Linked DNA regions of Homo sapiens: region 1 is linked to region 2. A link means that fine-mapping ties the variant in region 2 to the expression of a gene that starts in the linked region. Tissue or cell type: fibroblasts. Region 2 holds a variant in brackets; the other region holds the start of a gene. All regions are shown on one strand. Distances are from middle to middle.

The links. PIP is the estimated chance that this variant, and not a neighbour inherited with it, causes the effect.
Region 1: it holds the start of DIMT1, and the variant in region 2 is fine-mapped to the expression of DIMT1 in fibroblasts (GTEx, PIP 0.95).

Annotation. Positions count from the first base shown.
Region 1 is chr5:62,399,434-62,407,789 of GRCh38, forward strand. DIMT1 (DIM1 rRNA methyltransferase and ribosome maturation factor) reads right to left here and starts at 4,472. Exons shown (of 12, transcript NM_014473.4): 1 at 4,261-4,472; 2 at 3,840-3,913; 3 at 2,603-2,689. The coding sequence starts at 4,339. RefSeq lists an enhancer at 4,393-4,682.
Region 2 is chr5:62,094,488-62,102,843 of GRCh38, forward strand. The region is part of intron 1 of LOC124900610 (a long non-coding RNA gene); the gene reads right to left. Among named protein-coding and RNA genes, the nearest start is that of KIF2A, 210 kb to the right of the region's middle. The variant C/A (reference allele first, on the strand shown) is at 3,803.

The sequences.
Region 1 (8,356 bases), 300 kb after region 2:
CCAGCTTGGGCAAGAGACAGAGACTCTTGTCTCAAAACAAAAACAAAAACAACACAAAATATTAGCTGGGCCTAGTGGTGGGCGCCTGTAATCCCAGCTACTCAGGAGGCTGAGGCAGGAGAATTGCTTGAACCCTGGAGGCGGAGGTTGCCATGAGCCAAGACTGTGCCACTGCATTCCAGCCTGGGTGACAAAGTGAGACTCCATCTCAAAAAAAAAAAAAAGCCGGGTGTGAGGCTGAGGTGGGCGGATCATGAGTTCAGGAGACTGAGACCAGCCTGGCCAACATGGTAAAACTCTGTCTCTACTAACAAATTCAAAAATTATCTGGGCGTGGCGGCACGTGCCTGTAATCCCAGCTACTCAGGAGGCTGAAGCAGGAGAATTGTTTGAACCAGGGAGTCAGAGGTTGCAGTGAGCCGAGATCGCGCCACAGCACTCCAGCCTGGCAACAGAGCGAGACTCCATCTCAAAAACAAACAAACAAACAAACAAACACCACCACCCAGAAAAGTAGACAACCAGATTATGTGAGAGTTCTACTCATATAATCAATAGAATCATGTTTCATCTGTCTCCATGCTTTGTAATTCAACAGATGATGAAAAAAATACACTACATGTCTCTGCAGTCAGTGTTGTTAGAGAAGAGCGTACAATGCAATTGCTCTTACTGTTAGTATGTCACATCTACTGAGATACACAATACATGGCATAGATAACTTCTCAAGTAAATGAAAATGGATGTCAAATAAGGCCGAAATTGAAATTTTATTGCAATTTCAGCTGAGGTTTCACTGACTTTATTTTTATTAAAAAATAATTTTTTTTAAGAGATGGGGTCTCACTCTGTTGCCCAGGCTGGAGTGAAGTGGCGCTATCATAGCTCACTGCTGCCTCGAAGTCTTGGGCTCATGGGATCCTCCCACCTCACCTTCCTGTGCAGCTGGGACCACAGGTGTGTACCAGCACACCAGGCTAATTTCCTTTCTTTATTTTTAATAGAGACGGGTCTCTCTATGTTGCCCGGGCTGGTCTCAAAACTCCTGGGCTCAAACAATCCTCCCACCTTGGCCTCCCAAAGTGCTGGGATTATAGGCGGGAGGCACCATGCCCAGCCTTTTTATTTTTTATAGAGATTGGGTCTCGCTTTGTTGCCCAGGCTGGTCTCAAGCTCATAGCTTTAAGCAATCTTCCTGCCTCAGCCTCCCAAAGTGCTGGGATTACAGATGTGGGCCACAGCTCCTGGCCCTACTTCTATATAGACCCTGTTTACATGGTAAACAATGTGTTTCTTACTCTGTTTGGCTCCCAGATCTATCTTTAGTTTTATTTTTATTTTTTGAGACAGGGTCTCACTGTGTCACCCAGGCTGTAGTGAAGTGGCAGGATCATGGCTCACTGGAGCCTCAACTTCCCAGGCTCAGGTAAACCTCCCACCTCAGCCTCCCTGCTAGCCAGGGCTACAGTCAGGCACCACCATGCCCAGCCAATTTTTTGTAGAGATGGGGTTTCACCATGTTGCCCAGGCTGGTCTTCAACTCCTAGGCTCAAGCCATCCACCCGCCTTAGCCTCCCAAAGTGCTGGGATTACAGGTGTGAGCCACCATGAAAGGCCCTCCCAGATCTATTATCCGCTTTTCTCTGCATCCTACAGATAATGCAGTTCAGCTCCCTTACCTTTCAACTTCTGGTTGGAATTGGCCAGTGAAAGGCACCAGCATTATAGGGTACAAAGGGGAGGCGTTGGGTATTTCCTTCCTAATTAAACTCCCTGTTGAGGCTGGGCATGGTGGTTCATGCCTGTAATCCCAGCACTTTGGGAAGCCAAAGTTGGCGGATCACCTGAGGTCAGGAGTTTAAGACCAGTGTGGCCAACATGGTGAAACCGCATCTCTACTAAAAATACAAAAATTAGCTGGTGTGGGGGCAGGTGCCTATAATCTCAGCTACTGGGGAGGCTGAGGCAGGAGAATCTCTTGAACCCAGGAGGCAGAGGTTGCTGTGAGCCAGGACTGCATCTCTGCACTCCAGCCTGGGGAACAGTGTGAAATTCCCTCTCCAAAAAAAAAAAAAAAAAAAAAAAATTCCCTGTTGAAATACCTAATGTGGTTTCTGTTTTCCTCACTGAAATATCTCATATTTTCCTTTTTTTTTTTTTTTTTTTTTGAGACAGAGTCTCACTCTGTCACCAGGCTGGAGTGCAGTGGTGCAATCCTGGCTCACTGCAACCTCTGCCTTCCGGGTTCAAGTGATTCTCCTGCCCCAGCCTCCCAAGTAGCTGGGACTACAGGCACCTGCCACCACACTCGGCTAATTTTTGTATTTTTAGTTGAGATGGGGTTTCACCATATTGCCCAGGATGGTCTCAATCTCTTGACCTCATGATCCACCTGCCTCGGCCTCCCAAAGTGCTGGGATTACAGGCGTGAGCCACCGCGCCTGGCTGAAATATCTCATATTTTCTAAGACAAAATTTCCAACAAGGGATCAGGAGTTACTACTAAAATAATAGCAATTAGTTAAAACATATTTAGATTGTAAACCAACTGAGCTTGCTAACATAGTCATTTGTGATACCAAACATTAAATCCCCTTTCTACCTTTTTTGCCTTTTCTAACAACTTTACAGTCATGTTGCCAGTTCCAGGTCCAACTTCCAGCACTACATCAGTTGGTCTTAAGGCAGCCTAAAAGCAAGCACAAACACTTTAGCTCTTCTGGCAACATCAGAACACAGAAGTTAATTTACACCTGAACATCTTTACTCATATGTGCTCCGATAAGAGCTCTTAATCTGACTCCATTTTTAGATTTCTTCATGATCTACGTGGTTAACAAAATTACCTCAATAACATTTGGTGCAAATGAAAATCTAAGACCTCTCCTAACTTGGAGGAATACTGTTCAACTTTAGGAGTCAGAAAAGCAGCAACAGCATTTCTGGGATTGGCATTCTGCTTTCTATCTGGAAATATTCCAATAGCCTCTTGTTACCTTCTCTGTTCGTATCAACAAGTTCAAATGGGAAAGGACTGTACGTGTTGGGCGAAGATTTTTCAATTTTCAACCCATGTATGGTTTCAAGGATGCAGAAGAGCAGAAACTGTACACAAAATTGAATGTCTGCACACAGCTCTAATATTCTACGGCCATAGCTTTCATCAGATGCTCAAAGGAAACTATGAGCTAAAAAGGTTAAAATAGTACATGACCCTTCTTTCTTTTTTTCTCAGTTTTCAAATGACACGAAGCCTGACAAGATCCTTTAACTATGTAATGCTCTTTCTACAGCTCCAGGATGCTTTCCTTGCTTTTAACCATAAGTGTAATCTGCACCGTGTGTATTTCACTTCCTAACACCCAATCATCCATAACCATAAGAGAACATCAATAACTCAGAAAGCAGTAATACTCCAAGCAATTTATATGTGGTACTAGCATACACCAAATAATTTATATGTAGTACTATATGTTTTTCTGGGGAACAAACTTTCTAATGTGTAGTTTAGACATAAATAGATGGAGTACATAAAAACTAAGTGATCAAAAAGGTGATTAGAAATAGAAGAATAATTATCTTGAACAAATACAAAGGTCCAGCTATAAAGTAGATAATCCACAAAAAGACACAGAATTGGGAACCAGGAGAAACTCAGACCCACAAAATGAAGCTTATCATGCAGAAGACAGCCCAAGAATCCTAGACAATTATTTGATTCATTCAACAAATATTTACAGAGCATCTAATTTACGGCAGGCAGACTTTCTGCGCTTATGTATTCATAGGAATAAAATTAATAAACCAACAACTCTCTCCCTTTCCTCTTCCACACCCACCTTATCGATAATGCTGTTAATAATGAGAGGATTTTTCAAAATGTGCTGCCCAATCCCCGTGTTGAACATGAGTCCTGTAAGAAAATACGAAACAGCATTAATTTTCCTACTGAGATTAGATATTAGGCAGTACCAGAGAAGAAAGCTGCATGGGTATGGGGAAGATTTCTGCGCCAACCAGGGCCACGAAACGTCACGCCAGGACTGACAAACTCTTTATAAGTTCATCCTCCAGCTGGAAAGGAAGTCAGCGGCGACGCGCAGGGCCTGCGGCCGAGTCGGGGACCCACCCCTGCCTTCCGCGCTCACGGGAGCGCGTCCTGACCGGCCTCTGCCGATCAGGTCTTGGTCCGCACCCCAGGCTAGGTCCTGCCGGAAGACCTGACCCGACCGACCCCAGCTTCCTCGCGGGGATCCGCACCTCCAGCGCTCTTCAGCTCCCGGCGCTGCTCCTGCCGCCCGCGGCGGCGGCCGATGGCCCCCGACTTGACCTTCGGCATCTCGGCAGAAAGCGGGCCCACAGGCCCGGGACGTCAAGGAGGACCAAAGAGGGCTAGCGTGAGAAAGCCACCACGTGGGGATCGCCGCCACGCGCCGCCCGCACCACTCTGGCCCAAGCGCCGGAGGGGCAAGGGTCCGCCCCCTCCCGTACGCTCTGAGCTCCTCCTCCAGAAAAAGGGCGGACCTTGGAGCCCACTGACTGCCGGGAATTGGAGTCACAGAGGGAGGAAGGCCGAACCGCGGGAGCCTACAGATCCCAGAAGACACCGCGCTACCGAGGACTGCAGTCTGGAGTTGGAGCCCTTGTCCCAACCAGGGCTGGATAAGAAGGTGTTGGTGTGGTGCTCTCGGTGTTGCGAAGGCTGTTTAAGTTATATGATGAGGTTAAGCCTATGGATGTTTTAGTAGCCTAGGTTCTGGGATCGCTGAGGTCCAAAGAAGTATTCACGTGCCTCGCTCCTGTTTTCCTGAAGCTTGTGGGGGTGGGAAACCCGGGATTTGGGGATGAGCTTGCTCTTTTGTGGGAATGCATTTTTTGCTGCTTGCCCTGGGGAAAAGAACTGCGAGAATGGAATTAACGTCTGGTTTCGCTAGGGCTACTGGTTGCTTCTACTAAGAATAGAAGAGCCGGGCGCGGAGGCTCACGCCTGTAATCCCAGCACTCTGGGAGGCAGAGGCGGGCGGATCACAAGGTCAGGAGATCGAGACCATCCTGGCTAACACGGGGAAACCCCGTCTCTACTAAAAATACAAAAAATTAGCCGGGCGTGGTGGTGGGCGCCTGTAGTCTCAGCTACTTGGGAGACTGAGGCAGGAGAGTGGCGTGAACCCAGGAGGCGGAGGTTGCAGTGAGCCGAGATCGCGCTACTGCACTCCAGCCTGGGCGGCAGAGCGAGACTCCGTCTCAAAAAAAAAAAAAAAAAAAAAGGAATAGAAGAATAATTATCTTAAACAGATACAAAGCTCCAGCTACAAAGTAGATAATCCACAAAAAGACAGAATTGAGAACCAGGAGAAACTCAGACCCACAGAATGAAGCTTATCGTGCAGAAGACAGCCCGTGAATCCTAGAAAATTATTTGATTCATTTAACAAATAATTCAACAAATTCCTTTTGTGCCTCATCATTCACTCCGTAAACATTTATTGAGCTCCAACTGTGTATCAAACACTGCTAGGGATTCTAAGTAAGAAACTTATTTCAAAGTGTATTATATTGACAGAGATGGACAGAAACTCCAAAACGCTGTAAATACGATAACGTATTGGTCGTTGTGACAGGACAGTGTACCTGACTATAAACTCCGTGTGTACCAGGGCCATAATATCCACATCTGTTTTGCCAGCCAGTGTAATGGCTCTTTTAAATTTTTCTGTGTGTATTCTGTTTGGTTGAAGAAATAGCTTCTTCCTGTCATTACTAAAGCTAACTCTCTTTTGAGCAATTCATTGTGTACATTCCCAAACCTTGGTCTTAGGCCCTTCTTTCTTTGATGTAGTTCTAAGTCAGAAAAAAAATCTCGTATACCCTAGTAGCATCTTCAAGTATATGTTTCATTTCATCAATCATTGTTATTCCACAATTCTAAAGAGTACACTGTGCTAGGCACTTCCAAATGTTAATAGGATGGACATGGCCTGGAGAGGTGGCTCATGCCTGTAATCCCAGCACTTTGAGAGGCCAAGGCGAGCGGATCACTTGAGCTGAGAAGTTTGAGATCAACCTGGGCAACAAAGTGAGACCCCGTCTCTACAAAAAATACAAAAATTAGCCAGGCGTGGTGGTGCAGGCCTGTAGTCTCAGCTACTCGGGAAGCTGAGGTGGGAGCCTCACTTGAGCCCGAGAATTTGTAGTGAGCCAAGATTGCACCAACCTGGGCGACAGCATGATACCCTGTTTAAAAAAAAAAAATTAACATGACACAAAACCCTGTGTGTGATTTGTTATTGTTGTTGTTGTTGGGTTTTTTGGTTTTGTTTTTTTGAGACGGTCTCACTCTGTCACCCAGGCTGGAGTGCAGCGGCATGATCTCAGCTCACTGCAACCTCCGCCTGCCGGGCTCAAGCGATGCTCTCACCTCAGCCTCCCGAGTAGCTGAGACGACAGACATGAATCATCTTGTCCAGCTAATTTTTGTAATTTTTGTAGAGGCGGGGTCTCACTTTGTTCCCCAGGCTGATCTCAAACTTCTCAGCTCAAGTGATCTGCCTGCTTTGGCCTCTAGGTTGCATTTCTTCTGTGAAATAAAAGGCAAGTTTTTCTGTAGAGAAGGAGCTGTGGAGGTGGTAGGACAAGGGGCATGAGTGCGGAGAAGGTTTGAAGATCCTTTATGCGCAATGGGAGAGGAAGATTAGAGGGAACTCAAGAAGACATGGCATGTCTTCCAGCTAAATGTGGAGCCCAGTATCTCCAATGTGTACTGCTGTGTAACCACAGCCTGGAGACAAGAGCAGAGAAGGCAAAATTGTTCTTTTGATTCATCAATGAATGACCACTATTGCTCCCTAGAATAGCATTGTAGGCCTTTCAAATTAAGTTCCTATTTACCTTACTTATTTACTTCCCAACGTTATCAAGTTCCTTTTTCTTCCTTAAACATCTTTATACCTCGGCTTTGTGAGTGCTCTTCCTTTTGCATTCTCGACCTTCCCCTGGCTAACTTTTGTTTGCTGTTAAAGACACAACTCATATATATAATATAAATATATATATTTAAATATAAATATAAACATATATAAATATAAATATATATATATATATATATTTTAAGATAGAGCCTTGCTCTGTCACCCAGGCTGCAGTGCAGTGCCATGATCTTGGCTCACTGCAACCTCAGCCTCCCAGATTCAAGCTATTCTCATGCCTCAGCCTCTCAAGTAGCTGGGATTGCAGGCGTGCACCACCACCACGCTGGCTAATTTTTTTTTTTTTTTTTGTATTTTTAGTAGAGATGGGTTTTCACCATGTTGCCCATGCTGGTCTTGAACTGGCCTCAAGTGGTCTGCCCGCCTTGCCCTCCCAAAGTGCAGGGATTACAGGCATGAGTTACCGTGCCTGGCTTCAAATGTTATATTTTTAAAATAGTGGCCCAGGCTGGGTTGCAGTGAGGCAGACGTTGCAGTGAGTTGAGTTTGCTCCACTGCACTCCAGCCTAGGTGACAGAATAAGACTCCGTCTCAAAGAAAGAAAGAAAAGAGGGAGGGAGGGAGCGAAGGAAGGAAAGGAAGAAGGAAGGAAGGAAAGGAAGAAGGAAGGAAGGAAGGAAGGAAGGAAGGAAGGAAGGAAGGAAGGAAGGAAGGAAGGAAGGAATCCTGAATACTATAAACAAGATTCTTCTATGAATGTATTCTTTAGAATGATCTAAATATGTGGCTGGGCATGGTGACTCACGCCTATAATCCCAGCACTTTGGGAGGCCAAGGCGGGTGGATCATTTGAGGTCAGGAGTTCGAAACCAGCCTGGTCAACATAGTGAAACCCTGTCTCTACTAAAAATACAAACATTAGCTGGGTATGGTGGTGTGCACCTGTAATCCCAGCTACTCTGGAGGCTGAGGCAGGAGGCAGAGGTTGCGGTGAGCTGAGATTGCGCCACTGCACTCCAGTCTGGGCAACAGAGTGAGACCCTGTCTCAAAAACAAAAACAAACAAACAAAAAAGAATGATCTAAATATTTTTAGATAATCATAAAGACTATGTTAGATTAATACAATTATTTAAAGAAGATGATTATGGTCTCTGTTTAATACCAGCATAGGTGTAAACCTTGTCAGTGAATATTACATAATTGATACCTCTCAAAAACATTTGTCAGATAAATGTTTCCACATCATTACCATTGTTAAAAGAGAAACTAAGGCACAGTAAAATCTTAAAATGTTTATTTGAGCAGACAGTGATTCATGAATCAGTTTGGGACTCTGTTAAAGGCGCACCAAAGAAAGGCTTTTATAGGGTGAATGTGGAAGCATGGCAAATAAAATACACTGAGTTGGGTTTTGGTTTGCTTCTGTAG
Region 2 (8,356 bases):
ATTGCAAAACAGCACAATGGAATCAGAACAAGTGGCCACACATTTTTACTGATGAAAAGAATGTAATGCTTACTACAAATTTTCTGAAGAATGTGTTTTTAGGAATAGTCATGAAAACTACCCCCAAAAAATCGCCCTGCTGACTTAAATGAAACCTTATCATCCTATGGAACTTGAGGAGCAGTAAACATGAGTCAAGAGAAAATTAGTTAATGAGTTAAAGATACTTTTATAAACTTTGCATTTTTCTTCTATTACAGGTTAGGCATCTATGAAATTTTAAATTTGACTGTATGGTAATTTGTGCAAAATGAAAGTAGGACTTACTGGTAATTCTAGAAGAATTTTCCAAGTCACCAGAAAGAGTATTGAAAACAAATCTTGGCTGGCCCACCCTGAATCTGAGAGTATCACTGGAAAGATTAGACTGGTTCCGAAACATGACAGATGCCCAATAGCTGATTTTGGAAAATAGGAATATTTAAGTGGTATCAATATATGGGGCATGTGGGGGAAGGATCTAGTTGATGCCTGCAGCACAAAAAGAGGCTGCTTTTGCTCTGAAAATAATCAAATGGTATTGATGTTGGGTGAAGAAGAGGGAAAAATCTTGGTGGGGAAATCAACACAAAAGACCAGGAGTATCCCTACCTTTCTAAAGAGCCATAGAAGGCCAGGTACAGTGGCTCATGCCTGTAATCCCAGCACTTTGGGAGGCCGAGGCATGGATCACTTGAGGCCAGGAGATCGAGAGCAGACTGGCCAACATGGTGAAACACAGTCTCTACTAAAAATACAAAAATTAGCTAGGCATGGTGGCAGGCACCTGTAATCCCAGCTACTCTGGAGGCTGAGACAGGAGAATTGCTTGAACCCAGCAGGTGGAGGTTGCAGTGAGCCGAGATGGCACCATTGCACTCCAGCCTGGGTGGCAGAGCGAGACTCTGCTTCAAAATAAAATAAAATAAAAAGCCACAGAAGAGGAGTGATCATGACTTTGAGCAATCTACACAAGGTTGCCTATTGCTTTGGCCCTCTGCCCTGCTGGAAGGAAGAAAGGGAGGGAAGGAGAGAGAAGGGAAGAAAGGAGGGAGGGAGGACAGGAAGGAAGGAAGAAAGAAAGAAAGGGAGGGAGAAACAGAGAAGGGAAGGAGAGAGGGAAAGAAGGAAGGAAGGGAGGAAAGGAGGAAATTTTAGGAGATTTGTTCAAATGTCTGATAGGAAAGAATGTATGTCCATAAGCTCACCACTTATACAAAGGTTAGGAAAGTTTTCCCAGAATAACAGATCATGGAGATAGATTAAAATGAGAGGGGAAAAAAATCAGATTGGTTTAAAACCATCAAAAAAATGTAAAGTGGAAGCTTTTAGCATTTGAACATCATACTATCATCAATCAGCAGCCTGATTGGTTAAGCCTGAGTGCTCTGTCATCCCCTCAATGGTATGTTTCCACTCCGTTTTGGATTAGTTCTAGGATTGCTGTGACAAAGTACCACAAACAGGGTGTCTTACAACAACAGAAATTTATTGGTTCACAGTTCTGGAAGTTAGAAGTCTGAAATCCAGATATGCACAGGGCCGTGCTGCCTCTGAAACCTGTAGGAGAGAATCCTTCCTTGCTCCTTTAGTTGATGATATTGCCAGCAGCCAATGGCATTGCTTGGCATGGAGATGTATCACTCCAATATCTGCCCCCATTATCGCATGGCTGACTTCTCTCGTGTTTCTCCACATCTGCTTCCCTCTGTGTATTCTTGTGTCCAAATTTCCTTCTACCAAAAAATACACCAGTCACATGGGATTAAAAGCCCATCCTTCTACAAAAAACTCAAACAAATTTACAAGAAAAAAACAAACAACCCCATCAACAAGTGGGTTAAGGATATAAACAGGCACTTTTCAAAAGAAGACATTTATGCAGCCAACAGACACATGAAAAAATGCTCACCATCACTGGCCATCAGAGAAATGCAAATCAAAACCACAAGGAGATACCATCTCACACCAGTTAGAGTGGTGATCATTAAAAAGTCAGGAAACAGGTGCTGGAGAGGATGTGGAGAAATAGGAACACTTTTACACTGTTGATGGGACTGTAAACTAGTTCAACCATTGTGGAAGACAGTATGGCGATTCCTCAAGGATCTAAAACTAGAAATACCATTTGACCCAGCCATCCCATTACTGGGTATATACCCAAAGGATTATAAATCATGCTGCTATAAAGACACATGCACACGTATGTTTATTGTGGCACTATTCACAATAGCAAAGACTTGGAACCAACCCAAATGTCCAACAATGATAGACTGGATTAAGAAAATGTGGCACATATACACCATGGAATACTATGCAGCCATAAAAAATGATGAGTTCATGTCCTTTGTAGGGACATGGGTGAAGCTGGAAACCATCATTCTCAGCAAACTATCGCAAGGTGAAAAAACCAAACACTGCATGTTCTCACTCATAGGTGGGAATTGAACAATGAGAACACTTGGACACAGGAAGGGGAACACCACTCACCGGGGCCTGTTATGGGGTGGGGGGAGGGGGCAGGGATAGAATTACTAGATATACCTAATGCTAAATGACGAGTTAATGGGTGCAGCACACCAACATGGCACATGTATACATATGTAACTAACCTGCACGCTGTGCACATGTACCCTAGAACTTAAAGTATAATAAATATATATAATATATAAAAAATTGTAAAAAGCCCATCCTACTCCAACATGATCTTAGCTTCACTAACCACATCAGTAACCACCCTATTTCCAAATAAGATCAAATTCTGAGGTACAGGTGATTGGACTTCAGTATATCTTTTAGGGGGGCACAATTCATGCCATAATACCTTATCTCATAAAGATTATCAGGAGAGTTATACAGAAAAATTAGCGAACAATTATAAAAGTCAGCTATCGGGTATCTTAATTACTTTTTGTCACCTGAATTCCTTCAGTTTGTTGGGGTACAAGTTAATAGAGTCATGTTTATTAAAGCTTAATTTAGTCTCACATCCAGGAGTCTACCCATGACATGACGATGATGATGGTGATGATGATGATGGGGATGGTGAGGATGGTAATCACGGTGGCAGCTAACGCTTACTGAGTGCTCATTATGAGCCAGGTGGTATTCTAAATTCTTTATCTGTATTAATTCATTTATTCCTTATGACCACCCATGAGGAAGTTTCCTATTATTTTCCCCATTTTACAGATGAGGAAAGTGAAGCACAGAGAGGTTAGATGAAGCAGGTCAGCCCGCAGAAATTCCACTACAGCATCTCTATAAGTATAGCCTCCTACTCTGAAGACCTCAATATGATCACACTGTGATACGGTTTGGCTCTGTATCCCCACCCAAATCTCACCTTGGATTGTAATAATCTCCACTTGTCAAGGGTGGGACCACGTGGAGACAACTGAATCATGGGGGGCAGTTTCACCCATGCTGTTCTCATGATAGTGAGTGAGTTCTCACGAGATCTGATGGTTTTATAAGGGGCTTCCCCCCTTAGCTCAGCACACATTTTCTCTCCTGCTGTCCTGTGAAGAGGTAGTGTCCACCATGATTGTAAGTTTCCTCAGACCTCCCCAGCCATGCAGAACTGAGTCAATTAAACCTCTTTTCTTTATCAATTACCCAGTCTTGGGTATTTCTTCATAGCACCATGAAAACAGACTATTACACACTGAAACCTAGAGCTTCCTGACTTAGAGAACAATTTTCACCCACACAACCCCCTAAAATTAATGCAGGATGGAACTACCTAGATGGTCTTTTATAT[C/A]TTTACATCAGCCCCCATTTCCCTTCCTATATGAAAATGAATATGTACACACCTGCCTACATGTGAGGCAATACACAAGGCATCTTGACTTACACAGGCTGAACCTCAAATGCTATCTCAATGTTATTTTTATACCTGTAGAATGGATCCACTTCATACTAAGTTTAGATATAGGAGTGTGAATTCCTTCCCCAATAGGAAAAAAAAAATTTTGAAGTTACTAGCCTAGGAACAATACATTTAAAAGTGTGTATTGTTGTGGATTATTTAGATCTTGAAGAGCCAGAGTGATTTACAGCAATTAAGATATCAAGAGAGACAGATATCATTCTCTTGAGATTTCTTGGATGAATTAGAGGAGCATCCTGATTTCACTTGTTTGTCTGTCCGTGTATTTAATTAGTTCCACCAGGCAACAAAACAAATGCTTTATTGTATACTCATCAGATCTTCAATGTCCTAGGATGACTTTATGTAAAAACAGCCATCTTGAAAAATACAAAATAACATAAATGCACTTGTCTGAGCCTGAATGTTAGGAACAGAAACCCATGTGTAATGTAAACATTTTTTCATAAAATTTAAAAGTTTAACATCATGTGCATTCAATCATAATTAAAAAACAAGTAAGTTGATAAATTATGCAGAAAGCCACCAAATATCCAGAAAGATCAGCCAGAAAGGAATATCAACCATGAGACCCAACCTCCTTTTCCTCTTTTACCCTCAAACTTGGTCTTTTAGGAAAAGGAGGCTGATTGACCAGTAGCGATCTCAACCTTAACTTGACCCATCTCTTTCCCTGGCATCTTACAAATTATGGTAGCAATAAATAAGTATCCACACTTGCTCATATTCTCTCTCTCTCTCTCTCACTCTCCCTCTCTCTCTCTCTCACACACACACACGCACACACAAAATAACCAAACACACCTGCCCCTGTACAAATACCCTGTTGTAGACTCACGCATGTAGACGAGTATATTTTCAGGTAACAACGAAAAAAAATGGTGCTCCTGAACTTAACTTGGAAATAATGTCCACGATTGCAATTGCAGATAATCTTAGACAGCTAAAAAACTGGAAATTGAAAACAATTCATCAATTTCTCAGACCAGGCCTGAATAAATCTCTATAAACCTAAGTAATGTTTAGTCTCATCTTCAAGGGTTTGATGCCTGAATTTCCTTTTTATCCATAAAATGATAGTCTTGTTAAATTAAGACTATCTTTTTTTTTTTTTTTTGAGACGTGTTCTCACTCTGTCACCCAAGTTGGAGTGCAGTGGTACAACCTCAGCTCACCGCAGTCTCAACCTCCCCAGGCTCAGGTGATTCTCCCACCTCAGCCTCCCAAGTAACTGGGACTACAAGGTGTGTGCCACCACACCCAGCTAAATCTCCACCCTTCTTAATGGGGAAAACCATCATACAGCATTTCTGGGTTGGAAGCCCCTTATAGATCCCTCCTTGTCCCTTCCCTTCCACCTTTATCTCTCACCACACAGCCTGCAAATAATAAAGTTTCTCAATTACCTCAAATTTCTAATTGACCTCAAGTAGCCCAGCCCTAATCTAACTTTACTCATCTCCTATTCAAAGGTTCCCATTCCATATAATAAATACACAATCTCTCAGAGTAAATTATAAACATTTCATGCTTAAAAGTGATGGCAGTCAGAATCAAGAACCTTAATGGAAGGGCAAAATATGGAAGAAAGTCATTAGATTATAGAGAAAGAGAAAACCATCTTTTCCCTATCATTTTTCATTTTTTCATCTAAAGCAGGATTTCTCAAATAATCCTCTACAGTATTTTAAATAATGCTAATATATATCAGAATTTCAACTTTTAGAGATAGAAAACCCCACTACAGTGGCTTAAATGAATAAGGAATTTATTATCTCAATATTTTTTAAATTTATTTTTCTTTTTTTTTAAGAGACAAGGTCACCCGGGCTGGAGTGCCATGGTGTGAGTATAACTCACTGCAGCCTCGAACTCCTGGGCTCAAGTCATCTTCCCACCTTGGCCTCCCAAGGCACTGGGATTACAGATGCATGTCACCACACCCAGCTATTGTCTCAATGAACAAGAAGCCCTGGGGCAGTCAACACAGGCAAGGCAAGACTTGTACAGGGTTGCAGTGCTGCAATCATCACCCTGATTTCACCCAACATTCTGCTCCAACCTTCTTGTAGCAGACGATTTTGGTGTCCCATATCTGTAATTTCAGCCACAGTTGTAGTGGACAGTTTCATGTGAGCTCATGACAGAATCTCGTTTCAAAAATAAGCCACATGGCTTTTTAGTTTCTGCCTCAGGCCTTTCTCCAACTCTGAGAGGAACTTCTTAATCTTCATGCATGCACTATGTGCAGGGAGGTAAAGTCCCCAGGAGCAACCAACAGTCAAAGAGAAGCAAGTGGACTGGCAATTTTAGGGGGAATTCTGTATGTGTCTTGGGGGTCCTGGTAGAACCTAATCCCATTAGTTACAGCATTGACCTCAATGAATGCACCCTGATATTGGCTTTTCCTCCCTTTCTGCCTCACTCTATTTGCTCACATTTGCTTCTGGGATTACCTCCCAAATAAACTACCTGAACTCGAAGTTCTTTTCTCAGGCTCTGTTTCTGAGGGAACAGGAAATAAATTGCTACTGAAATTGGCCCCAGAGAGGCAGAGTTTGAGGACTGGAATTCTTGAACTGGATCGTTCACAGGTGTATAGCCACAGGACCCAATGCTAGTGGTAAGTGGGGTAGAAATAAGCTGTAGCAGAGTGTAACCTGCCAATTATGAAAAGTCTCACCTTTTGTGTATTGGAATAAGAACCAGGTGGAAGGGAAAGTATTTGGTGATGCAGAAGCCCTACATTTAAATGGTGTGGGGGCAGTGGTAATAACTAGGATTGTGGAGTTGGCTGGGTTTTGTTACCTGCCTTGGAAGCCTTAGAGAAAGATAATGACAGATTTGAGAGGCCAATTACTAACTTAGGGCTTGCTGAAAAAAGTCAGAAGGCCTCCATGGCAGCACTTTAAGGGTTCATCTGCTGCAACTGGATGGTTCATTAAGCTAAAATCAGGTTCAGGTTTTATCATATGGGTTCAGCATTGACAGGTCTTCCATGCTAATGTCAGGGTCCTGAGAGAGAAGTGGGACTCTGGGACCTTGGATGGGGACATTGGAGCACCTGAAAAACATGGCACCTCCCCACCAGATTCCCCTGAAATCAAGCGTCTCTGCCCCTTGCTAGAGGAAAGCAATTGCACCTTGCCTGGAGAATATGCAAAGCTTTGCCTGGGATGAATGCTTTGCAAAATTATGTTTGTCCTCCTTAAGATGAGCCCATGCCTCCCCTCACTGCTTCTGGACCAATAACTGGTCACACAGCCCCAGCAGAGAAATAGTCTCAGCTGTGGGAAGAAACAGCTTGCTCATCAAGAGAACTGCAAGACCACCTGGAGCCAGGGGAACACGTGTGAGAAGGGAACTTAAGATTTTCAGGGAGGGGCAGCGAAGAAAAGGAGAGGGGTCTGAATATAAAACTGAAAGAGAGGTTATAGACACAGGAGCACTCTTACTATGCCTTTATTTTTTTTTAGAGGTGGGGAGCAATGAGATTTTTTTTTTTTAAACAGTCTGGCTCTATCACTCAGGTTGGAGTGCTGTGGTGTGATCTTGGCTCCCTGCAGCCTCAACCTCCCTGGGCTCCTGCCATCCTCCCACCTCAGTCTCCCAAGTAGCTGGGACTACAGGCATGCATCACCATGCCCAGCTAATTTTTAAATTTTTGTAGAAGTGGGGTTTCGCCATGTTGCCCAGGCTGGTCTCCAACTCCTGAGCTCAACCAGTCTACCACCTCAGCCTCCCAAAGTGCTGGGATTACAGGTGTGAGCCATCATGCCCGGTCATGCCTTTGATCTTAATATACCACTGAGTTGGCCCTTAAAGCTTAGAGATGATATGACCTGTAAGTAAAATGAAATGCCAAAACTGCCTTTCAGAGTATTGAGGAAGGTGTTAGTTCTGTCCCTCTAAAGAACCCTGACTAATACAGATTCTGGTACCAGGAGTGGTTCTAGAAGAACAGAATATTAAGGATGGAGTTCTTTCATTGGTTTTGGAGTTTCTGGAGTTGGCTGCTTAATATGATTAGACCCAAAAATGCTAAGAACTCTACTACTTTTTTGTTTGTTTGTTTGTTTTTGAGATGGACTCTCGCCCTGTCACCCAGGCTGGAGTGTAATGGTGTGATCGTGGCTCACTGTAAACCCTGCCTCCTGGGTTCAAACCATTCTTCTGCCTCAGCCTCCCAGGTAGCTGGGATAACAGGCACCTGCCACCATGCCCAGCTAATTTTTGTATTTTTAATAGAGATAGGATTTCACCATGTTGGCCAGGCTGGTCTCAAACTCCTGACCTCGTTATCCGCCCGCCTCAGCCTCCCAAAGTGCTGGGATTACTACAGGTGTGAGCCACTGTGCCCGGCCCAGGACTCTACTTCTAATAGTTGGCATAAACTGTCTAGGAAGTTATGCAAAATAAATGCAT